3 separate regions of the Homo sapiens genome follow, and all the other regions are linked to region 1. A link means that fine-mapping ties the variant in region 1 to the expression of a gene that starts in the linked region. Tissue or cell type: whole blood. Region 1 holds a variant in brackets; each other region holds the start of a gene. All regions are shown on one strand. Distances are between the middles of the regions.

Region 1 (8,000 bases):
TCGTGGTGTCTGCTTTAACAGTGCACATGCAGCACGTGAGAGTCCCACGCAGGACTGGGGGTTGCTGGATGGTACTGGGGAGTCCTGTGCCAAACCAGAAGCAGGCACAGGTGTGAATGGGCCCTGAGGGACCTGGGCATGCCCACTGTCGCTCTTGATGGATTCAGGCCTGGAGTTCGTCTTGGGGTGAACACTTCAGAAGCCCTTTCAGTGTGTGCACACCTGACTGCATTTCTTTGCTAGTAGAAATGATACACCTACGAGAGGAGGACAGGAAGTCTCATGGCTTCTTTCTTTGCTAGTAGAAATGATACACCTACGAGAGGAGGACAGGAAGTCTCACGGCTTCTTTCTTTGCTAGTAGAAATGATACACCTACGAGAGGAGGACAGGAAGTCTCACGGCTTCTTTCTTTGCTAGTAGAAATGATACACCTACGAGAGGAGGACAGGAAGTCTCACGGCTTCTTTCTTTGCTAGTAGAAATGATACACCTACGAGAGGAGGACAGGAAGTCTCACGGCTTCTTTCTTTGCTAGTAGAAATGATACACCTACGAGAGGAGGACAGGAAGTCTCACGGCTTCTTTCTTTGCTAGTAGAAATGATACACCTACGAGAGGAGGACAGGAAGTCTCACGGCTTCTTTCTTTGCTAGTAGAAATGATACACCTACGAGAGGAGGACAGGAAGTCTCACGGCTTCTTTCTTTGCTAGTAGAAATGATACACCTACGAGAGGAGGACAGGAAGTCTCACGGCTTCTTTCTTTGCTAGTAGAAATGATACACCTACGAGAGGAGGACAGGAAGTCTCACGGCTTCTTTCTTTGCTAGTAGAAATGATACACCTACGAGAGGAGGACAGGAAGTCTCACGGCTTCTTTCTTTGCTAGTAGAAATGATACACCTACGAGAGGAGGACAGGAAGTCTCACGGCTTCTTTCTTTGCTAGTAGAAATGATACACCTACGAGAGGAGGACAGGAAGTCTCACGGCTTCTTTCTTTGCTAGTAGAAATGATACACCTACGAGAGGAGGACAGGAAGTCTCACGGCTTTCTTTGCTAGTAGAAATGATACACCTACGAGAGGAGGACAGGAAGTCTCACGGCTTCTTTCTTTGCTAGTAGAAATGATACACCTACGAGAGGAGGACAGGAAGTCTCACGGCTTCTTTCTTTGCTAGTAGAAATGATACACCTACGAGAGGAGGACAGGAAGTCTCACGGCTTCTTTCTTTGCTAGTAGAAATGATACACCTACGAGAGGAGGACAGGAAGTCTCACGGCTTCTTTCTTTGCTAGTAGAAATGATACACCTACGAGAGGAGGACAGGAAGTCTCATGGCTTCTTTCTTTGCTAGTAGAAATGATACACCTACGAGAGGAGGACAGGAAGTCTCATGGCTTCTTTTACTCTTCCCCTCTCCCCCACACCCTTTTTTTTTTTTTTTTTTTGAGAGGGAGTCTTTCTGTCACCCAGGCTAGAGGGCTAGAGTGCAGTGGCACGATCTTGGCTTACTGCAACCTCCACCTCTTGGGTTCAAGCAGTTCTCCTACGTCAGTCACCTGAGTAGCTGGGATTACAGGCACCCGCCACCATACCCAGCTAATTTTTGTATTTTTAGAAGAGACAGAGTTTCACCATGTTGGCCAGGTTGGTCTCGAACTCCTGACCTCAAGCAACCTGCCCGCCTTGGTCTTCCCTGTCTTTTATCTTTGTCTGTAGACTTAAGGCTATAGAAAAGTTTCCAAAGATGATCTAACTTAGGAAGTAGGGCTTGGGTTCCCTCTAATGCCTTCTTTTAAGGAGTCACCCACTGAGTTATGTTTCTCTCAAGAAAAATAAATAATGAAATTACTATTTTCTGTTATATTTTATGACAGTTTGTCTTTCTTTCCTTCCTTCCTTTCTTCTTCTTTCTTTCTTTCCTTCTTTCTTTCTTGAGACAGGGTCTCGCCGTGTTGCTCAGGCCGGAGTGCAGTGGTGCAGTCATGGCTCACTGCATCCTTGACCTGGGCTCAAGCAATCCTCCCGCCTTAACCTCCCAAGTGGCTGGGACTACAGGCGTGTGCCACCATGCTTGGCCAATTTTTTTTATTTTTATTTTTTGTCTTGTTATGCTGCCCAGGCTGGTCTTAAACTCCTGGCCTTAAGCAATCCTGCCACTTCAGCCTCCCAAAGTGTTGAGATTACAGGCATCAGCTGCCATACCCAGCATATGACAGGTTATTAAGCTATAACTAGCGTTCTACAGAATCCACCCATTTAAAGTTTACGATTCAGTGGTTTTAGTATATTCACAGAGCTATGCGCTATCACCACAATCCTAGAACCTTCTCATCACCCCAGAAAGAAATCCTGTGTCCGTGAGTTGTTGCTCCCCATTTTCATACCTCTGTAGCCTTTTGTTTTTGTTTTTGTTTTTTTTTTGAGACAGGGTGGGTCTCTGTCTCCCAAGCTGGAGTGTATGGTGCAATCAATCTTGGCTCTCTGCCACATTTGCTTCCTGGGCTCAAGCAATTCTCCTGCCTCAGCCTCCTGAGTAGCTGGGACTACAGGCATGCGCCACCACACCTGGCTAATTTTTTTCTATTTTTTGTAGAGACGCGGTTTTGCCATGTTGTTCAGGCTGGTCTCAAACTCCTGAGCTCAGATGATCCACCTGCCTCGGCCTCCCAGAGTGCTGGGATTACAAGCGTGAGCCACCGTGCCTGTCTAACCTTGTTTTTTTACTTTCTTTCTCTACACATTTTTTTCTGGACATTTTATATACAGATGTTCAACTTATGGGCTTATATCCTGATAAACCCATTGTAAGTTGAAAATATCATAAGTCTAAAATGGATTTGAGGCTGGGTGCTGTGGCTCACACCTATAATCTCAGCACATTGCGGGGCTGAGGCGGGTGGATCACTTGAGGTCAGGAGTTTGAGACCAGCCTGGCCAACATGGTAAAACCCTGTCTCTACTAAAGATACAAAAAAATTAGCCAGGCATGATGGTGGGCACCTATAATTCCAGCTACTCGGGAGGCTGAGGCAGGAGAATTGCTTGAACCTGGCGGAGGCAGAGGTTGCAGTGAGCCGAGATCGTGACACTGTACTCCAGCCTGGGCAAAAGAGCGAGACTCTGTCTCAAAAAATAAATAAAATAAAATAAAATGAAATAAAATGCGTGTGATACACCTAACCTACTGAACTTTACAGCTTAGCCTGCCTACGTCAAACATGCTCAGAACACCTACCTTAGCCTACAGTTGGGCAGAGTCATCGAACGTAAAGTGTTGAATAACTCACGTAATTTATTGAATGCTACGATGAAAGTGAAAAACAGACTGGTGGTTTGAGTCAAAGTATTGCTTCTACTGAGCGTGGTGGCTTTTGCATCGTCCGACACCGTGAGTGGAATCACACGACACGTGGTCTTTTGTGACTGGCCTTAACTTAGTGTGTTTTCAGGGTTCCTCCATGTTGTAGCATGGAGGTATTGAAATCCTTTGCCTACTTTTACATTGGATTGTGTCTTTATTATGGTCTATGTATTATTTTTGTCTGTTGTTTTATTATTGAGTTGTAAGAGATGTTTTTATATATTCTGGATATATTGTCACTTATCAGAGACATGATTTGCAACTACAGATGGTCCCTGACTTCCCATGGTTTGACTTTTGCCGTGGTTCAAAAGCAGTTTGCATTCAGTAGAAACTGTCCATGGAGGAAGAGCCAG[C/T]GCAGTTTGCGTTCAGTAGAAACTGTCCATGGAGGAAGAGCCAGCACCTTTGCCGCAGGCCCCTGAGGGTCTGGGTGCTGGGTCCTTGCCCCACGCATTCTTCTCACCACTGACCTTTGTGCCAGCGTCTCTGCCTCAGATCCTTGCTCTTGGCTCTGCTTTCTGTCTGGGATGGTTTTCTGGTGCTGGCAGGGCCCTGGGAGGGTCTGGGAGGCATGTGGCTCCGGTTGCACTTTGCTCACGGTCCATGTCGTGGTCCCCCATGTTGGCATGCCGCAGTGGTGCCTGTGCTCCTGCACCCTGTTGCTCTGGCTGGGTTATTGTTCTCTTGTTGGTAGACACATTCTCTTGCACACATGGGAATATATTTGTCACATGAATGCCTTAAAGTAGAACTGCTGGGTCAAATATGTGCCTGTTTTATTTTGATAGAGAATGAGAAATTGCCCTCCATAGAGATATGTGCTTCTTTGCAGTATAAGATTTATGCCCCCTTCACCAAGTGAGCCAGTCAGCACATGTTTCAATGTTGCTCATCTGATACGTGCACAATGGTACTTAGAATAGTTTAATTAGCATCTTGAAAATAAGAATAGGGGCTGGGTGTGGTGGCTTATGCACTAATCCCAGCACTTTGGGAGGCTAAAGCAGGAGGGTTACTTGAGACCAGGAGTTTAACACCAGCCTAGGCAACATAAGGAGACCCTGTATCTATGAAACATAATGTACCATTGAGCATGGTGGTGCATGTCTGTGCTACTCGGGAGGCTGAGGTGAGAGTATCCCTTGAGCCTGGGAGTTGGAAGCTGCAGTGAACTATGATTGTACCACAGCACTTCAGCCTGAGTGACAGGGAGAGACCTTGACTCTCTCTCTTTTTTTTTTTTTTCTGAGACGTAGTCTTGCTCCGTTGCCCAGGCTGGAGTGGAGTGGCGTGATCTTGGCTTACTGCAACCTCCGCCTCCCGGGTTCAAGTGATTCTCCTGCCTCGGCCTCCCGAGTAAGCTGGGATTACGGGCACCCACCACCACGCCTGGCTAATTTTTGTATTTTATTTTTTAGTAGAGACAGGGTTTCACCAGGTTGGCCAGGCTGGTCTCGAACTCCTGACCACGTGATCCACCCTCGACCTCCCAAAGTGCTGGGATTACAGGTGTGAGCCCCCACACCTGGCTGAGACCTTGTCTCTTAAAAAAATAAAATAAAAAGGCTTTACATTTCTTTTCACATGTTTGAAAGTTGTTTGTATTTTTATTTTCTAGTGAACAGTGTGCCTATGTCCTTTGTGACATTTCTCTATTGTTTTTTCTGATTGGCGTGCAGTAGACTCACTTCCTCAGATCCCCAGTAGGCAGTGTCAGCATCTTGTGCTGATGTCTGTCAGTTTTAACCGTTCAGGAACTCCGTACTCCCCGTTGGGAATCTGCAGCTCTGATTTCCAAAATCACAAATAAGTTTTGTGTTCCTCTTTCAGGATGCCGAGGAATGTGACAGGGCTGGGAGTGTGGCCACCTGCCAGGCCGTCATGCGTGCCGTGATTGGGATTGGGATTGAGGAGGAAGATCGGAAGCATACCTGGATGGAGGATGCTGACAGTGTGAGTTGGCAACAGGGGCCTTTGTCCGTAATATGGAGTCTCTGCTTGTGGGAACAGCAGGCACCTTATAAACTACTAGGCTATTTTAAAACTCTTTTTTTTTTTTTTTAAATCTGAGACGGGGTCTTGCTCTGTCGCCCAGGCTGGAGTGCAGTGGCGCTATCTCAGCTCACTACAACCTCCACCTCCTGGGTTCACGCCATTCTCCTGCCTCAGCCTCCCGAGTAGCTGGGACTACAGGCATGTGCCACCACGCCCAGCTAATTTTTTGTATTTTTAGTAGAGACGGGGTTTCACCGTGTTAGCCAGGATGGTCTTAATCTCCTGACCTCGTGATCCACCCCGCCTTGGCTTCCCAAAGTGCTGGGATCACAGGCGTGAGCCACCGCGCCCGGCCTCCCAGAGTGCTGGGATCACAGGCGTGAGCCGCCATGCCTGGCCTCCCAAAGTGCTGGGATCACAGGCGTGAGCCACCGCGCCCGGCCTCCCAGAGTGCTGGGATCACAGGCGTGAGCCACCGCGCCCGGCCTCCCAGAGTGCTGGGATCACAGGCGTGAGCCGCCGCGCCCGGCCTCCCAGAGTGCTGGGATCACAGGCGTGAGCCGCCCTGCCCGGCCTCCCAGAGTGCTGGGATCACAGGCGTGAGCCGCCGCGCCCGGCCTCCCAGAGTGCTGGGATCACAGGCGTGAGCCGCCGCGCCCGGCCTCCCACGGTGCTGGGATCACAGGCGTGAGCTGCCGCGCCCGGCCTCCCACGGTGCTGGGATCACAGGCATGAGCCGCCGCGCCCGGCCTCCCAGAGTGCTGGGATCACAGGCGTGAGGCGCCACGCCTGGCCGCAGATTTGCTTTCTTACTCTGTTCGCTCTCATGCACTTACCTCTTATTTTTTTTTCTGGAACTGTTTGACAATGAATGAGTTGCAGATGTGGTGCCCTTTACCTTAAACACTTTGGTGTGTATTTCTTTAAAAGAGGACGTTCTCTTACACAGCCATAGCTCAGTTATCAAAATCAGGACATTGATGTTGGGACAGTGCTGTCAGGTAACTTCAGACCTTACTCAAATCTCACCCACAGGCTGGGCATGGGGCTGACGCCTGTAATTCCAGCACTTTGGGAGGCCGAGATGGGCAGATCGCTTGAGCTCGGGAGTTTGAAACCAGCCTGGGCAACATGGCAGAACACCATCTTTACAGAAACAAAAGCCAGGCATGGTGGTGCACGCTTGTAGTCCCAGCTACTCAGGAGGCTGAGGTGGGAGGATCACTTGAGCTCAGGAGTTTGGGGCCGTAGTGAGCTGTGATTGCGCCACTGCACTTCAGCCTGAGTGACAGCAAGACCCTATCTCAAAAAAAGAAAAAGTCTCACCCGTTGTCTCTGTGTCCTTTTAGCAGAAGAAAAAACCAACTGTCTTCTGTGAGGAATACAGGGTCATCCTCAGGCTAGTCTGGAAGAGAGCCTCAGCCTTTGTTGTTCCTGAGTGTGAATTTTTTGAGGACCACGGGCCAGTGATGCTGTAGACTCCTCTTTCATCTGGTTCTCTGTGGTGTCTCCTCCGGGTTGGGTTGAGGCTTCTTGGTGCATCATACGGAGAGGTGTGCACCTGTTCAACTCCGACCGTCTGGTGCGGGCAGTGGCCGCAGGTGTTTCCACTGTATGGTTGCTGTTTGTTTCTTTGTTATTATTAATAAGTATTTTGAGGATCCATTAATGATGCTTCTTGGCCTGAATCAGTTATTTCTGTGGTGTTTGCTAAATGGTGATTTTTTTTAAATCTTTTTTTATATATTAAATTTTTTTTGTAGAAACAGTATCTCACTATGTTGTCCAGGCTGGTTTCGAACTCCTGGCCTCAAGTGATCCCACCTCAGCCTCCCAAAGTATGTAGGATTACAGGCGTGTCACTGTGCCTGGTCACACCTGCATAATGATTTTGTGAACAGTTTCTCTTACATTTTATTAGTTGGAATTCTACAGTAACGAAGAGCTTCACTTTCTCCTTCATCCGTGTGCGTTCACTTCCTTCCATCTGGATTGGTCAATGGCTCCTCCTTTGGTCCTTGGAATCAGACCCCACTGCTGGCATTGACCGTGTGATACACACATGATTCTTTTGCACCCCGTGTGGCGTGACCCAGAGCTTGTGTGCCGGCTGGGCCATCCTCCTGCCCCATGTATGCTAAAATACACACATCAATCCTTAGGTGAGTTAAGACGCAGGGCAGCGGTAATAGTTTTTGTTGTTGGTTTTTTTTTTTTTTTTTTTTGGGACAGAGTCTCACTCTGTCTCCTAGGCTGGATGGAGTCCAGTGGCACGATCTTGGCTCACTGCAACCTCCGCCTCCCAGGTTCAAGGGTTCAAGCAATTCTCCTGCCTCAGCCTCCTGAGTAGCTGGGACTACAGGTGCCTGCCACCACACCTGGCTAATTTTTATATTTTTTATAGAGATGAGGTTTCGCCATGTTGGCCAGGCTGGTCTCGAACTCCTGACTTCAGGCCATCCACCTGCCTCAGCCTCCCAGAGCCACTGCTCCTGGCCTGTTTTTCTCTTATTATTTTGTCATCTCTTTCACATACACTGGAGTAAGCACAGCTGTTTTTCAAAGTGCTCGTGATGCTAGAGTAAGGAGGACAGTGTTTTCTGTGCCCAGAAGTGTGCTGTGGTGCTGCTTCCC
Region 2 (8,000 bases), 21 kb after region 1:
AGCCCCTCTGCTCCCACCCGCCCCGCTAGAGCCAAGCGTTGTCTGAGCTGTGCTGGAGGCAGTCAGGCTGTCCTGGTCCTCCCTGGAAAGTGTTGCCAGCCCACGTGAACCCTAACTCCTTGTTTGGAGAAGGCAGACGTGAGCACTTGTGTGAGGCACAGACATGGGGAGCCTGGCTCAGTTCCTCATCTGTGGGCTGAGGCTGGTGGGGTCCATGCTCCTCAGGAGGTGGGGCTCCTTTGAGGAACACACCTGAAAGAGCCTTGCCTTCCGGTGCAGGGCCTGTGCCCTCTGGCCCGCCAGTTGGGGTTGGTGCTGCCAGGGCCAGGTCTGCAGGGGCCAGGCGAGAAGCAGGCGAGGTCCGGGGAGTAGCGTGGGAGGACCCCTGCCTGACGTGCCCTGTGGTCCCCCCAGGAGCAGCAGGAGGAGGTGAGGAAGCGCTGTGAGAGTGCAGAGCCTCGGCATGGGGAGCTGTGGTGCGCCGTGTCCAAGGACATCGCCAACTGGCAGAAGAAGATCGGGGACATCCTTAGGCTGGTGGCCGGCCGCATCAAGAACACCTTCTGATTGAGCGGTTGCCATGGCCGGTCTCCGTGGGGCAGGGTTGGGCCGCATGTGGAAGGGCTCTGAGCTGTGTCCTCCTTCATTAAAAGTTTTTATGTCTCGTGTCAGAACAGGCAGCCTGCTGGTTTTCTCTGGGGCCCTTCTCTGGCTCCTGCTTCTGCTGCCCCAGTCTGGCCTGTCCTGGCCTGTCCCATGCCGTCCTGGGGTGGCTGTGATCGCCCTTGCTTGGACAGAAGCCTCTTGCAGACAGCCGGTGTCTCACAGAGGAGGCACTGTGGAGGTGCCCGGGTTCCCCAAGACTGTGGAGAAGGTGGTAGGGGTGCAGATGTTCTGGCCAAAAGCCCTGTGAGGACAGCTGGAGACAGTGGGGACCAAGCTGCATGCAGGACGCAGGTGCTCGCAGGAGCCTGGCAGCCGCCTGCAAGGGTCTTGGTCAGGGGACAGCTGGGGCCTCCCTGGGGTCTGAGTGCAAACAGGAGAACCCAGCTCTGCGCAGGGCCTCTCCACACAGCCTCCCGGGCCCCTCAGGCATGTGCTGAGTGACAGTGTCACCAGTAAGAGGCGTTCTTTCTTTTGGAGGTGAGTTCATTTTTTTATTTTTGAGACAGTCTCGCTCTGTCGCCCAGGCTGGAGTGCAGTGGCACGATCTCGGCTCACTGCAACCTCTGCCTCCTGGGTTCAAGCAATTCTCCTGTCTCAGCCTCCCGAGTAGCTGGGACTACAGGCGCCCGCTGCCAAACTCCTGACCTCAGGTGATCCATCTGCCTCAGCTTCCCAAAGTGCTGGGATTACAGGCGTGAGCCACCGCACCCGGCCGTGAGTTTATCTTTGCTAATTTATCATTCGCAGTTTAACCCTAAAGCCCTTGTAATGGTTCTCATCTCCAGGTTGAACAGTGATGGTTCTCATCTCTAGGTTGAACGTTGATCACCCGAGAGACTTGGCTTCTCTTCAGCCTTAGCTGTGTAAGGATAAAGGACGTCCTCAGGCCTGGGATCATGTGTGTGCATTCAGTTGGGAGCCAGCTGGTTCTTGTGTAGGCCGGGGCTAGAGACATCTGGCTGGAGGTCATGGCTGGCCCAGAGGGTGTGGGTGGACAGTCGTTGAGGCCAGCGGGCGGGGAGGAGGGCGCTGTCATGTGGGCTGAGGAGGCTGCTGGAGAGCAGCTGTCCCTGGATGTTCCTTGTGAGAGGGGAGCCCTGGAGGGTCCCGGCCTGTCTTGTGGTACCGATGGCAGGGCCTGTGGTGGTGGTCAGTCACTGACCCACAGCTCTGCCCACCTGCACATGGGGGCCTGTGCTAGGCCTTGTGGTCTGCCTGCCCTGCTCCTGACGAGTGAGAATGGCTGGGGTGGGAGATCCCTGCCTGCACGTGGGGCGGTCCTGGTAGACCAGAATGTGGGTGTGGGTCCCCCTTCCCTGTGGTTCTGGGGACCTTGAGGACATGGTCAATCCCGGGCAAGGGACCTGCCACCCCTGTATGGGGTCAGGAACTGCTGGTTGGTCTCTGCTGGGCAGGCAACCTGGGGTCCAGCTCAAATCGTTGGAATGTGGAAGTCCTTCCTCTCGCCCCGTCCTGAGGAGCAGCTGCAGGAGCTTCATGAGTGTTTTCACTGGAACTTGTGGAGGAGTTTCCTTTGATCCCTCATGGAGAGACGGAAGCATGAGGGAGCCCTCAACATTTATTCTGAAGATGAAGAGAGTCCTGCAGCTTTTTGGAGTTTGTGAAGTCAGCCCGGCCCTGTACAGATGTGGAAACCGAGGCCCAGGAAGTTTGTGAGCCAGCCCGGCCCTGTACAGGTGTGGAAACCGAGGCCCAGGAAGTTTGTGAGCCAGCCCGGCCCTGTACAGATGTGGAAACCGAGGCCCAGGAAGTTTGTGAGCCAGCCTGGCCCTGTACAGATGTGGAAACCGAGGCGTAGGAAGGAAGCCCTTCTCTGACCTCAGAGCTGAAATGGCCAGTGCTGGGTGGGCATTGAGGGGTCACACAGAAAAGAATGTTTCAGGCCATGTTCAGGGGATACTTCCTGCAGGGCCCTTGGAAAGTTCCGGAGCGCTTACATTGTCCATGTGTGAGTGTCTCCTCTTTCTTGCCTGTGTGGGGTTTTCTCAAATGCTTTGAGTTGGCCAAACCACAGTTGTGCGCCACTTAACAGTGCGGATACATTCTGAGAAAAACCTCGTTAGGTGATGTCGTCTTGCAAACATTAAAGAGTGCATTTACACAAGGCTGGCAGGCACGGCCTCCTGCACCCCCAGGCTGTGTGCCCGGGTGCCAGAGCCTGGGGCTCCTGGGCTGCAGACCTGCACAGCCTGTCACAGCATTTAATCACATCCAAACACGGAAAAGGCAAAAACGTAAAGATGCAGTGTTACAATCCTAGGGGACTCCTGTCACCTGTGTGGTCTGTTCTTGACTATTGTGAGTCACTGACTTTTCCCCCTGGGAAACTACCTTAACTTGTCTTCAACTGAAATTTTTTCAGCCTGCAAAGATGAGTTGTGCCTCAGAGGTTGCTCGTGTTCTGAGGTGCCTCTTCACCACTGCCTGTCAGGCTGCTAACCAGAGTGCCCCAGACCACAGCAGAAGCGACAGCAGCCAAGGATCGGGGGAGCCCACCCTGCTCCTGGGTATCTTTACGGCAGGCAGCAGAGTAACAGCCTCAGACTTACCTCTTCAGCCAGAGACCCCTCAGCCCAGGAGGAGTGAGGCCGGGCCAGCAGCGGGGGCCCGGGAAGCCCCATGTCTTGGGACCTGCTGGGGCAGGGCCCCCTGGATGTCAGGCTGCAGGTCCGGCAGCTGGGGAGGGGATGAGGGCCTCCCACCAGCTCTGCCCATCAGCCAGATCCCTGGGAGAGGCAGCACTTGCTGGCCACAGAGTCGGCCCCAGTCTCACCTGGCTCCCCTCCCCCACCAGCTGGGCCCTGCACTGCCCCAGCCCACGCGGCGCCTCACCCCTCCTTGACAGAACAGTATCTCTGGGACGGACAAGTTAATCCAAGACCCACAGTAGCCCTGGATCCCCTGGGAGAGGTGGCTGCCCAGCTCCAGGGCCAGGTTAATTGAAGTGATAGGGAGTGGAGAGAGGGAGGGGGCAGGGCTGGGATTGCGTGGCCTTTCCTTCCCTCTCCTGCTCCCTCCCTCAGCTTGGAGGAGCCAACTTCAAAAGCCTCCGCCTGGCCTGCCCCTCTGCAGTCCTCCAGGCAGCCTGTCCAGGGAAGCGGTTGGCTGGTGTTGGACCTGGTGCGGCAGTGCACACCCTGCCCAAGGACCCCAGGATCATGTGCGTGGCCTGCTGGCGGGAGTGAGGGAGGGCAAGACCCTGAAAGGCCCATGGTGAGCAGCTGTGGGCCTCCTCTAGGGAGGGGGCTTACTTGGGTGGAGGGGCTGGGGGTACACACAGCTCAGGAGACACTGCTTGTTCCCCTGAGCCCCACCAGGAAATCTCCGGTTGGCTCTGGTCACTGCGTCCCTGTGGGTGGCACTGGGTGCATGTGCCCTGGCTTCTGGCAGTTGGGGGAGGGGGGCTCCTGGGTGCCGGGCAACCCTGTTCTAAGCTGGGCTGAGGCTTGAGCCTGGAAGTGGTACTAACAGGCCAGTTGGGACTCCCAGGGCAGCCAGTCTGCCCCACCTGGGTGGGACACAGCAGGTGCTGGACATCCTTGCAGCTCCAGCTGGCCTGCTCAGGAGTCAGGCTCTGGTTCTCGCTATGACCTCTGACCCAGAGCAGGCAGAGGGAATGACGTGGCAATTCTGAGCCCACCAAGTTGGCTGTGGCGTGTGTGGTTGGGGGGGTCAGGTTTCAGGAAGGGGCCACAGCAAGCCATCTGCTCTTCCAGCCATTGCTGCTTTGTGCTCTGAGCAGGAGCTGCCACCGCCCACCAGGCCCCCAGCTCTATGCAAGGGTTGGGGTGCTGCTTGTTCAGGCTCCCCTGACAGGGCTAGGAAGCCGAGTCGAGTCCTCTTATCTTGGTTGGGTTCGCATGATTAATTTCCAGCCCTAGATCTGCTGTCTGACTCCATCCTGGGGGCCCAGGGGAAGGGTTGGGGCTGGCCCCTTTTGGGTGGCTGGGAACCTGGGGGCCGTCAGCTGTCTCCTTGATGTTTGGGCTTTATCCCTGCGGGCGCAGGCCCTCCATTTTGGGTCGGGGGAGGCCTGTGGCACAGGCTGCCCGGAGGGATGGCGTGGGGCGGCTGGTACAGGCAGAGGGGCCTTTTGCGACTGTTGGTTGGGGCTGGATGTGGTGGCTCCTTCCTCCTCTATAGCTTCTGGGTGTCCCCCTAGCTTTCCCCTTCCAATAGGGTGTGGCTTGGAGCTCTGAGCCCCTGCCCCAGTTGGGTTGGGGGTACAAGGAGTCCCCAGTTCCCACGTCTCTGTGAGCTAACCCAGAGGGCGCCAGTATGGGAGGTGTGGAGTTGAATGGGCATGGCCATGAGTGAGACAGGCTGTACTGGGACAACTTCCTACTGTACCCCCAAGAGCCTGCAGACCAGCCCCACTAGAGCTGTACGGGGCTGGTGGGGGGCCCTGCTCTGTGCGGTCCTGAGGGTGCTCCACCCCTTGCTGGCCCCACTCCCACGTGGACCACAGAGCCAGGCTCTCCTGACTCTGGGCCTGCCCCCTCTATCTCCTGATGGGTTCTTCAGGACTCAGTGACATCGCCTCCCAGCCGACATCACTCACCCCTTTCACATCTTTGCAGGGAGCATAGAACTGTCTGGTTTGCAGACCTATCTCTTGTGTCTCCTGATTTATCCCGCCAGGCCTGTGCCTACAGCCTTTCTTGATTGGTGACACGTCCATTTCATTCGCTCAGAGATCCCGTGGGGTGGGGCAGGGGGTGGGGCTTCTACGGAAACAAAGTGCAGGTGGGCTGGCTGCTCCCTGTGCTGGGAACACCCCCCAGGCCTAACCCCAACCTGCTGTCTCCTCCAGGTACCCCCTAAGCCTGCACTCTGGGCGCTCCTGCTGGCGCTGCTGGGGACCGCGCCAAGCCGCGCCTATTCCCCGGCCTGCAGCGTCCCCGACGTGCTCCGCCACTATCGCGCCATCATCTTCGAGGATCTGCAGGCCGCCGTGAAGTGGGGCGGGGCGGGGGCCGAAAAGACCAGGCCAGGCTCCAGACACTTTCATTTCATACAGAAAAACCTGACTAGACCCGGGAGCTCGGGACGGCGGGGACGGCCTCGGGCCTCCTGTGGCGCCCAGAAGGTATGGAGGAGGCGCCCCTACCCAAGCTCGCCGGCCTGCTCCTCTCTCAGTTTCCCCCCACCCCCACCCCGCCTTCCTCCCTTCCCTCCCCAGGAGCACAGTATCCTCCTGTCCATCTCGTCCCTGGGTCGGACCCTGCGCGGGGCGGTGGCCGGGGGCCGCCGCGGGGCCCTGGAGAGAGCTGCTTGGACCGTGGCTGTGCGCACCGAGGCGGTGATGCGGCGCCACTGCAGGACGCTGCGCCAGGTGTGCGTCCCTGAGTGCACCCAGAGCCAGACCTCCCTTAACCCCCACAGGGCCGCCGCGCGTCCCGGGGCTCCACGGCCCTAGGCTGAAGTCGGGCTGGGTCGCGTCTCCCTTCCCGGGCCGGGCCGGGCGCGGGGGCCGTGCGCATTCGCTGACCGCCCTGTCCCCGACAGCGGAGCCGGCGGCCCAAGATGCGCCCTGCCCGGCGTCGCGGCGGCCGAAGGCAGCTCCTGCTGCGCGCCCTGGACGCCGTCGCCACCTGCTGGGAGAAGCTCTTCGCGCTGCGCGCCCCGGCCTCCAGGGACTCCTAGCGCGGCCCGTCCTGGCCCTGCGCGGGGAGGAGAACCAGCGGGGCCGCGGCAGAGCCTGGAGACGCGCCTCGTTCTGTAGACTTGTTGGTGACCTCGGCCCCTCGCTCGACGCAGCCCGCGCTCCCCGGAGGGCCCAGGACTTGGAGAAGGGAGCGCGCCTGGCCGCCGCTGGGTCACGGAGGAGGCCCGCCCTCCACGCGCCGAAGGCCTCAATAAACGGAGCTGGCGCTGCGGGTCCGGCACTCCCTTCGCCTGCCTCTCTGTGGGCCTAGGACCGCCCCGGGATCTGCGCCTCGGTGGCGGGGGGCGGTGGAGGGGGAATGCGGAGACCCGCACTTCCTGTGGCACCTGGACGGGGCGGAGCCGCCGCTCCCAGCCTCGGGCAGCAGAGGGCGGACGCGGGACGCTGGGCGCGCTCCGGCTCTGTCAGCGGCTCCCGGCTGGGCGGAGGGCAGAGCGGGGGACTCCTGGGGCCCCTAAAACGTCACGTATCCGTCCTGCTCCACTTTGGACCGGGGCCGGGGGTGGAAATTGAGGGGAGGGGAAGGCTGGACTTGGTGAATTCGGAGCAAAACAACCGGATAAAGGAAACGGGCCCGAAGGGAAGCGGGAGCTGCGGGCCTTGGCTGTGAGCTTGGCCAGGCTATTTCCTGCTGCCTCCGGAGGGGTGACCACGGCCTGGGCTCAGAGACTGCCCAGCCCCCTCTGCAGGACTGGCCAGGCTGGGGCCCGCTTTCTGGCCCCTGGAACCCTCCATTTGCTGGGGGACTGTCCCCTGGTTCCCCCATCTGATGCGCAGGTCTGGGAGTCTGTCACCCCCCTCCCCCAATCTCGGCCCATGGAGGAGCAGGGGAGGTAAAGTACCTGACACCTGTTACCCTCCCCTTCCCGGAAAGGCCGCGAGCAGGCTGTGCCTCTGGCATTCTGTGGGATCAGGGGCAGCAGCAGAAGAAAGAAGTAACCTCCCAAGCTGACCCTGACCCAGCCCCACACTCTGTGTTAATGTATTTAGTCTGTGCAACGGGAGCTACTGTCTCTGTTTTATAGATGGGGAAACTGAAGCACGAGGAGGCTGAGACTTGCCCCAAATCACAGCCAGCAATGTAAGAGCTGGCCTCAGACCCAGGCCCAGGGCATGGGATCTGCCACATGTCCCCTGCCTGGAGGCTGGGGGCCAAGCTTCCTGGACTTCAGAGCCTTGGATTCCCCTGCAGAGTTAGCACTTCTGACAGAGTCCCTGGCCATGCTCTGAGCACAAACACCTAGCAAGCATTCCCAGCCCTAGTTCTGCATTGCCTGCTCCGTGGGGGCCAGTGGGGGCAAGTGTGGGAGGGATGAGGGGGAGATGCAGGGTGCAGGAGCCCCAGCTGGAGCCAAAGCACTTGAGGGGGGTGCTTGGACTTATCCCGAGGCAGCGGAAGGTCTTTGGTGAAAGAGGGATGTTAGAGTTGGAATCTAGAAAGGTTCCCGTGACTTGTGTGGAGGGTTGGTGAGGACAAAGGGGTGGAGAGAGGTCCAGGCTGCCCAGGGTCCTGGCTGGAGTACCTGGGTGGGTCTGTGGGGAGCCTGAACATGGGAAGCACTAAAGGGGGAGTGGGTCGGTTTGAGGGCCCTGAGGGAGCTGGGGAACTGTGGACGTGGCTGGGCTCAGCTGGGCGTGCTGGTGT
Region 3 (8,000 bases), 34 kb before region 1:
CAGAGTGAGAGTGGTGGAGAAGGAGGGCAGGGACGGAGGTGGGTGGAGTGGGTGGGTACCTGGGGGGTGTCTGTGCCGGGCTGCTGCAGGAGCTTGATTGGCCTGCTGCTGGCCGCCCTCTGGCTGCGGGAGTCATGCCACGTGAGGCTGGTGCCAGGTGTCCGAGGCAAGTGGCAGGGGATGCTCTCAGCTGACACCGTGTGCTCCAGGAGGGTCCGGCAGAAGCTGAAGTGGGCAGTGGCTGTGTGTGGGGGTGCCTGGTCAGGGCAGTCAAGGGCAGAACCAGAGGCTTCCTCTACTTGAGAGCTAGCTCCCTGCCCCATCTCCTCCACACTAGTGCGGGAAATCACCTCCCCAATGAGGGGTTCCCAAGCCTCCAAAGGCAGAAGGAAGTGTGCAGGACCTGTTTCGAGGACCTCACCCAGCACAAAAAGAGAAGAACTGGAAACACCTTTCATCTTGCAAGTCTACAGCCCTCACCCAGGGGAGCAGGATGGATTCTTAGATCAGAGGATGTGCCCTCTAGGGAAGGGAACCTGAGACATATGACAAGAGGAGCTATCCTGGGACAGCCCTGACCTCACCCTTGCCTTGGGCTGGCCCACAAGTCTTGCACACACCACACCAGACCAGGAAGTGCACACACGGCCTGCTTTGAGGAAAGGCAGATCCCGAGTCCGGGGAGGTCGTCTGTGCTGGGGAAACCGGGCTGAGGATGCTGCTTGCCCATCGCCACTGAAGGCACCCAGTTCACACAGCCCTATCTGGTGTTGGGGCCCGACTCACTGACTATGACTCATTGACAGCCTGAACTGTGGGCCAACTGACAAGCAGGGCTCACTCCGCAAACACGCGCTGGGCTCTCCAGCTGTGCCGCCCCCCACAGGGCCTGCAGCCCGGGACAACACCGGCCATGTGAATGGTGGGTACCCATTGGATATGGGCGGGTCAGCACAGGTATGTGGGGTGCAGCCATTGCTTGGGGACCCACGGTGATGCTCTGTGCTCCCTCTTCCCACAGTAACTGCATTAAAGTGTTTCATCTGAGCTTTGTCATCATCTCTGGGGGCACTGCTGACCTGAGTCTGGGGAGGCAGGCGTCTTGATCCAGGTCTGGTTACAGAGGGGCACCCCACATTCATTGTCAATGAATGAATGAATGAAGGCTCTGTATGGTATCTGCAAGTGAACAGAGCCTGTGGGGAGACAGAAGGTGGGCACAGGCCTGCCCCTGTCTTTACAGCACCCTAGCACCCAGGCCTTCAGCAGGGCAGGTGAGGTTCCCACGCTAGGGCCCTCATCCCATCCACCCTAGAGTGAGAGACCCTCCCGGCCTCAGACTCAGCCACCCACTCCACACCCAGGGCAGGGGTTGGGGATGTGTCTAGGAGGTCTAAGTATCGGTGAAAACCACATCCTACTTCCCCGTCCTCCCACGCCTGTAAGACTTAGGAGACATAACACCTTCCGCCCCCATTCTTGCAACTTTCAGGAACCGGACCCCTGGGTGACTCCAAATTTGAGGTCTGGGGTCAGCAGAGGGTGTGCTCAGTGGGCCACCGCCCCGAGGTGGCCCCTAGTGCTGTGGGAAAAGGCTTATTCTAAGCCCGCGCCTTCCAGCGGACAGGCGCCGTGGTCGCCGGGCTTTGCAGGGCCTCGAGCGGCGGGGCTGGTGCAGAAGCGCGCGGCAGTCCGGGGAAACCCGTCGGACTCCTCAGCCCGCACGGCACCTGCCCCGGCCAAGCAGGCTCCGCCCATTTCCTGCCTGCACTCCCGGAGGGAGTTCCGTCCGTCCCGCGGTCTGTCGGTCCGGTCCCTCCCGCCCCAACGTCAGGATTCCAGAAGGAAATGGGGCGGGGGCACCGAGGCGGGATGTGACCTCGGCCCCCTTTCGGCCCCACTGCAAAAGCGGGGGAGGGTTTTCCCCGTGCGCAGGAAAAGGTGACCCGAGCGTAGTGCCAGCCTGGACACAGGCGCCCCGGCTTGACACCCCCTCACCCCAAGCCAAGGGCGCGCTGACCCCCAAGGCCTGAGGCTGGCTGCCCCCTAAAGCAGGACAAAGGCTACGGGACCCCGTTGAGCCGAGACATCCGCCGAATACCCCCAGCCACCGCCGCTCGAAGCCCGCCGGGTCCCGCCCCGCCCCCGTGCCTCTGGGTCCCTGAGACCCCCGCCCGAGAAATCCCCGCTCCCCAATCCAGCCCCGCTCACCGTCCACATCCCGGCGCTCCCCGAAGCCCGCGCGCACGGCCCCGGCGCGGCCACGCGGGGGGCTCAGCTTGGACCTCAGCTCGGTGAACATGGGGCCCGCGGGTGCCAGGCCCGCGCACACGCCCCTCGCCGAGTGCAGGGCGGCCGGTGTGGCCGGCGGGGAACGCGCGCCGCCGCCCCGCCCCGCCCCAGCCGGCCCCGCGCCCGAGCCGGTCCCCGCGGCCCGCGAGTGTGCGCGACGAGGCACCTGCCGCCGAGCCCTGTGTGCCGGGCGCGCTCCGGGAGCTCCGAGGTGTGTCGGCGGCGCGCGGGCCTGCGTGCACCAAGGCTGTCCGCCAGGGCGAGGGGCGTCCGTGCGCCCCTGGGCACGGCTCCGCGGAGGAGAGTCCCCGTGAACCTGCCGGGCGTCCTCTGAGGTCGGGCCCCTCTGTGCGTGGGGGTGGGCTGAGGGGCATCTCACAGGGGTCTTCTACCTACCGGGGCCAGGACAAGGGGCAGGTCAACGCCTCCCACACACTTTCCTCGGTCTCCTACGTCTTTACTCGCCTTCAAATAGGCACCCGCTTCCCCGGAGAAACCAGCTTGACTCTTGCTTACCGCCCACCCCACTGTGAACATCAGGGTGGTTCTCCCTTCCCTCTGCAGCCCCAGAACCTGGCTCAGTGCCCGGGGGAGAGGGGGCGGTACAGTGCTCTGTAACTGAAAGGGGCTTGGCTTGCCTGGAGATGGGGCAGAGGGGAACTCCAAGGAGGCTGTAGCAGGCCGGAGCGGTGTGTTTGCTCCAGGACTCCAGTGAGAAGTGCTGAGATGGGGCTGGGCTAGGGAACTGTGGTTGCCTGGTGCAGCAGCAGGCCAGGCTTGCAACCAGCTATTCGGCTTGCTCTGCCCAGGAGCCTGGGTGCTCTCCCTGGGTGTATGTAGGGGCTCTGGAGGATGTCTTACAGCAGGAGGACCAGAGATGCACACAGACATGTAGAAATGCATGCACAGAGTACAGTCATGCACTTGCACCCAAAACACGAGCACACGTGACCTCTGTGCACACACCCCACTAATCACACACACAGAATTCACCCACATGCTTGACAGCCATGTTCATGTACTGACGTGTTCCCGACAGCTCAGCTGCGGTTATTTATTTCGTCAATTAGCTCTCCAGGAGCTAAGGATGTGGCCCTCACCAGAATGTCCAAGGCATGTTGGCGGGCGTGGGTGGGGTCTCTAGTCCCACTGGAGGGACAGATGCCTGAATGGGGGTTCAAGAATATGAGTGCTAAAAGCGTAGGGCAGCAGTGTGCGCACAGGACGCACACAGACAGGTGTGCCCATAACCAGTACACACAAGCTCTACACAACTGGACAGGGTACAGCTCTGCTCGGACAGGGCGCACCAGGGGCGAGGGCGGGCAGCTGGGCTGGTTCAGAGGGAGGGGGCCATGGGTTCAGAGGGAGGGGACCATGGGTCCCACTCTCACAGACAGGTCTCCGGACTGCATCAGAGCACTCGGGAAGCAGCAATGCCCCAGGCTGTTTTTAGCCCCCAGGGGCCAGTTAGGGTCCCAGTGCAAGCTCGACCTAGCTTCTTCCGCCTCTCCACGAGGAGGCGCTCCCGCGCACGCGCCTACCACGTTCCTGCCCCCTAGCCGCGGCCGGAAGTCGTCGAACCAGGACGTCGGGACTTCCGCCCAGGGAATCAAAAGTGGGCGGGGCGTGTGCGGACTGAGCGCTCTGCTTCCGGGGCGCGGGTGACGCGACGACGGCGACACTTTGCTACGGAGTGCATCGGACGTCGAAGCCTAGAGTCTCTGCGTCTTTCCCTCTTCCGCTGCCTCATTCCTTTCCTTCCTAGCCTTGGTCGTCGCCGCCACCATGAACAAGAAGAAGAAACCGTTCCTAGGGATGCCCGCGCCCCTCGGCTACGTGCCGGGGCTGGGCCGGGGGTGAGGCCTGGGGCGGCGCGCGAGGGGCGGGGACCCGGCTACAGGAGCGCAGTGCTTTGGGGCGTGTTTGGGGGCGGGGGTCTATGGCCGCGCAGTCTGAAAGACGCTTGGTGGATCGGCTTAATCCCTGCAGGAAGCAACGGGCTTTGGGGTCAGGACATACCTGTGTGTGCACCCTGCTTGCCGCCTAGATGTGACACATTGACTCTCAGCCCAGTGTTTTGGTCTGTAAGATGGGTAATGCTGTATACGGTCTGCAGTGAGGAGTAGAGGAATCTGACGTGTAGTGGAAACACGCGACCACCTTCCTCAGGTCGGGCTGACACTCCCCCCCCCCGCCCGCCCGCCCGCCCCGCCTTAAGCGTGCCTGGGTCCTCTATGCCTGCAACACAGATGACCACCGTGCGTTGCTGGATAAGTGAGCAGTCGTTATTATCCTATTTGGCTATTCATTTGATGAGGAACACTACTGGGTTTTTCTTGGTGGTGGTATTATATTGGAATCTGTGGGGCACACACAAGCTCACTAAGGAGGGTTTGCTATTACCATAAATAAGTACGTAAAGAGGACCAGATTTAGAACCCAGTGCTTAATGGAGAGTAGCATTGGAGCCAAGTTTAGTAAGAGAGCTGGACTTAGGGCTGTAGAAACGGTGACGATAGAAGAGAAACTGACATTCTGCGTGTGGGAGTTCAAAAAAAGTGAGGCAAGGAGGAAGCCCAGGGAACAGGAGGGAGTCCAGTGTGAGTGGAATGTACAGCGAATAGAATAGAGCTCAGGAGGTTGGAGGGGCCTTGAGCGTCAGGCTAGAGCTCCTGGAGACGTTAGAAAGATCATGACCCTTCAGAATTATTATTATTATTATTATTTTTTGAGACAAAGTCTTGTTCTGTCGCCCAAGCTGGAGTGCAATGGTGCGATCTCAGCTCCCTGCAATCTCTGCCCCCCGGGTTCAAGCAGTTCTCTGCCTCAGCCTCCTGAGTAGCTGGGATTATAGGTGCCCGCTACCACGCCCGGCTAATTTTTGTATTTTTAGTAGAGACAGGGTTTCACCATGTTGGCCAGGGGGGTCTTGAACTCCTGACCTCATGATCCACCCGCCTCCGTCTCCCAAAGTGCTGGGATTACAGGCGTGAGCCACCACGCCCGGCCCAGAATTTTTTACTCAGAGCTGTGTTTTGGGAAGAATCATCTGGCAGAGCATGGGTTGAAGTAGAGGAAGGCTAAAGGCAGGGAGAGGTAACTTGGTTTCCAGCTGTGATGGGAGTCATAGTCTGGGAAGGAGGGATTTTGAAAGTGGATTCATTAGTACTTGGGGACAGACAGGATGGGGAAAGTGGGAGAGGGAGGCAAAAATTACATCATGGTCCCGTGGCATCTGGGACAGCTGTTATCAGCTGAAACCCCCCAGAGCAGCTGTAAGGTGGGCACGGAAGAGCTCAGTGTGGGCCAAGTTGGGTTTAAGGGCCTGGTTGGATGTGGAGGGGGAGATGATCGAAGCCTTAGGGTGGAGAGAGATTGCCTTGGTAACATCATCAGGGTAGGCTGAAACTTTCAGGTAAGCAGAGAAGATCAGAAGTGTTTGAGACTGCAGTTCATTGTCACCAGGATCTTTGGAGGTTTCCCAAAGGTGTTAGAAAAAGAGGTGTTAGTAAGTGATAACCAGGAGTGGAGAAGAGCACAGGAACAGAGTTATTCAGACACCCGGTGTCTTGGGGGTCTCCTGCAGCGCCACTGGCTTCACCACGCGGTCAGACATTGGGCCCGCCCGTGATGCAAATGACCCTGTGGATGATCGCCATGCACCCCCAGGCAAGAGAACCGTTGGGGACCAGATGAAGAAAAATCAGGCTGCTGACGATGACGACGAGGATCTAAATGACACCAATTACGATGAGGTGAGATGTGTCCGGCTTTCGTGGCTCCTCCAGCCAGTCTCTGGGAGCAGCTGACCTAACCAGTGTGTGTTGGTGTCTGTAATGAATGGCTTGGAGTGGCTCATGCATTTAAATTTTAGCTATTCATGGAACATCTTTACTGAGAGTGAGAGGGAGCAGGAAAAACACGGAGAAATGTGCACTTTTTGTCCCTCAGAAGAGATGTTCTTGCAGGTGTTAGGACCACTGCCTTGGCATTTTCTATTGCCCAGTCTTTTTTTTTTTTGAGACGGAATTTCGCTCTTGTCGGAAGAGATGTTCTTGCAGGTGTTAGGACCACTGCCTTGGCATTTCCTATTGGCCAGTCTTTTTTTTTTGAGATGGAATTTCGCTCTTGTCGGAAGAGATGTTCTTGCAGGTGTTAGGACCACTGCCTTGGCATTTCCTATTGGCCAGTCTTTTTTTTTTTTTTTTTTTGAGACGGACTTTCGCTCTTGTTGGCCAGGCTGGAGTGCAGTGGTGTGATCTCAGCTCACTGTGACCTCTGCCTCCCCATTTCAAGCGATTCTCCTGCCTCAGTCTCCAAGTAACTGGGATTACAGGCATGCGCCACCATGCCTGGCTAATTTTGTATTTTTAGTAGAGACAGGGTTTCTCCATGTTGGTCAGGCTGGTCTCGAACTCCTGACTTCAGGTTGTCCGCACGCTTCGGCTTCCCAAAGTGTTGGGATTACAGGCGTGAGCCACTGCGCCTGGCTGCCAGTCTTTAATGATAAAAACTTAAAGTGGAATTGGTGATAGTATTTGCTTTTTTTAGCTTTAGTGATTGCCCTCTAAACAGACATCTAAAGAAAAACTTCAGCTGACTGAATACCGATTAACTGTCTTCTAACAGATGACATTTTTCCTCTGAGGAAAATTTTTAAAAATAATTTTAGTTTTGAGGCCAGGTGCGGTAGCTCACACCTATAATCCTGGCACTTTTGGAGGCCGAGGTGGGCGGATCATGAGGCCAGGATATCGAGACCATCCTGTTTAACATGGTGAAACCCCGTCTCTACTAAAACTACACAAAAATTAGCCGGGCATGGTGGCATGTGCCTGTAGTCCCAGCTACTCGGGAGGCTGAGGCAGAAGAATGCTGTGAACCCGGGAGGCGGAGGTTGCGGTGAGCCAAGATTGCGCCACTGCACTCCAGCCTTGGCGAGAGTGCGAGACTCTGTCTCAGAAAAAAAAAAAAAATTAGTTTTGAAATAATTTTAAATTTGCAGGAATTTGCAAAAATAGTGCCCCCCCAAAAAAAAGTTTCTGCATGTCTTTCACCAAGCTTCTCCCGATGTTACATGACCTTAGTGCAGTTATTGAAACGAAGGAGTTAACATTGACACAGTACTATTAACTAATTTGTCAGTCGTATTTGCATTTCATGTTTTTCCATGAATGTCCGCTTTCTGGCTTAGGCTTAGTCCAGGATCCCCCATTGCATTTCGTCATGTCTCCTTGGTCCCTTCCAATTGGGGGTCTCCTCTGTCTTCCATGCCCTTGACGCTTGAAGAGTAGTCACCAGTTATATGGTAGACTGTCCCTTGATTTGGCTTCGTTGGCTGAAGAAAATAATTTAGCAAGTATTTCACAAGTAGAGATCTCCGTTTCGCTGGTGGGGATGGTGTTGAAGGAAAAGCTGACCTCTACACGTGTTGTTTGCTTCTCAGTTTAATGGCTATGCTGGGAGCCTCTTCTCAAGTGGACCCTACGAGAAAGATGATGAGGAAGCAGATGCTATCTATGCAGCCCTGGATAAAAGGATGGATGAAAGAAGAAAAGAAAGACGGTAAAAGAAATTGTTGCCTTTCACAATATTTATCCAAGTTTAAAAAAAAGTTTTGTGGCCAGGCGCAGTGGCTCACGTGTGTAATCCTAGCACTTTGAGAGGCTGAGGTAGGACGATAGCTAGAGCCCAGGGGTTTGAGA

The links. PIP is the estimated chance that this variant, and not a neighbour inherited with it, causes the effect.
Region 2: C20orf204 starts here. The variant in region 1 is fine-mapped to the expression of C20orf204 in whole blood (TOPMed, PIP above 0.99). The same link has a PIP of 0.9 or more in T cells.
Region 3: PRPF6 starts here. The variant in region 1 is fine-mapped to the expression of PRPF6 in whole blood (TOPMed, PIP above 0.99). The same link has a PIP of 0.9 or more in T cells and blood mononuclear cells.

The regions. Positions count from the first base shown.
Region 1 is chr20:64,011,522-64,019,521 of GRCh38, forward strand. It overlaps PRPF6 (pre-mRNA processing factor 6), which reads left to right. Exons shown (of 21, transcript NM_012469.4): 12 at 5,202-5,324. Among named protein-coding and RNA genes, the nearest start is that of C20orf204, 21 kb to the right of the region's middle. RefSeq lists enhancers at 1-1,120, 5,178-6,377. The variant C/T (reference allele first, on the strand shown) is at 3,728.
Region 2 is chr20:64,032,427-64,040,426 of GRCh38, forward strand. C20orf204 (chromosome 20 open reading frame 204) reads left to right here and starts at 3,756. Exons shown (of 4, transcript NM_001387010.1): 1 at 3,756-3,900; 2 at 5,501-5,776; 3 at 5,870-6,022; 4 at 6,196-6,575. The coding sequence starts at 3,898. The coding sequence ends at 6,333. PRPF6 (pre-mRNA processing factor 6) reads left to right here. Exons shown (of 21, transcript NM_012469.4): 21 at 415-674. The coding sequence ends at 567. RefSeq lists enhancers at 2,919-3,148, 4,036-4,629, 4,099-4,198, 4,630-5,223 and silencers at 5,869-5,938, 6,039-6,358, 6,549-6,828.
Region 3 is chr20:63,977,166-63,985,165 of GRCh38, forward strand. PRPF6 (pre-mRNA processing factor 6) reads left to right here and starts at 3,967. Exons shown (of 21, transcript NM_012469.4): 1 at 3,967-4,151; 2 at 5,882-6,050; 3 at 7,742-7,860. The coding sequence starts at 4,081. It overlaps SAMD10 (sterile alpha motif domain containing 10), which reads right to left and starts at 2,477. Exons shown (of 5, transcript NM_080621.5): 1 at 2,212-2,477; 2 at 60-241. The coding sequence starts at 2,302. RefSeq lists enhancers at 1,631-1,925, 1,911-2,426, 3,022-3,081 and silencers at 2,272-2,591, 4,152-4,261.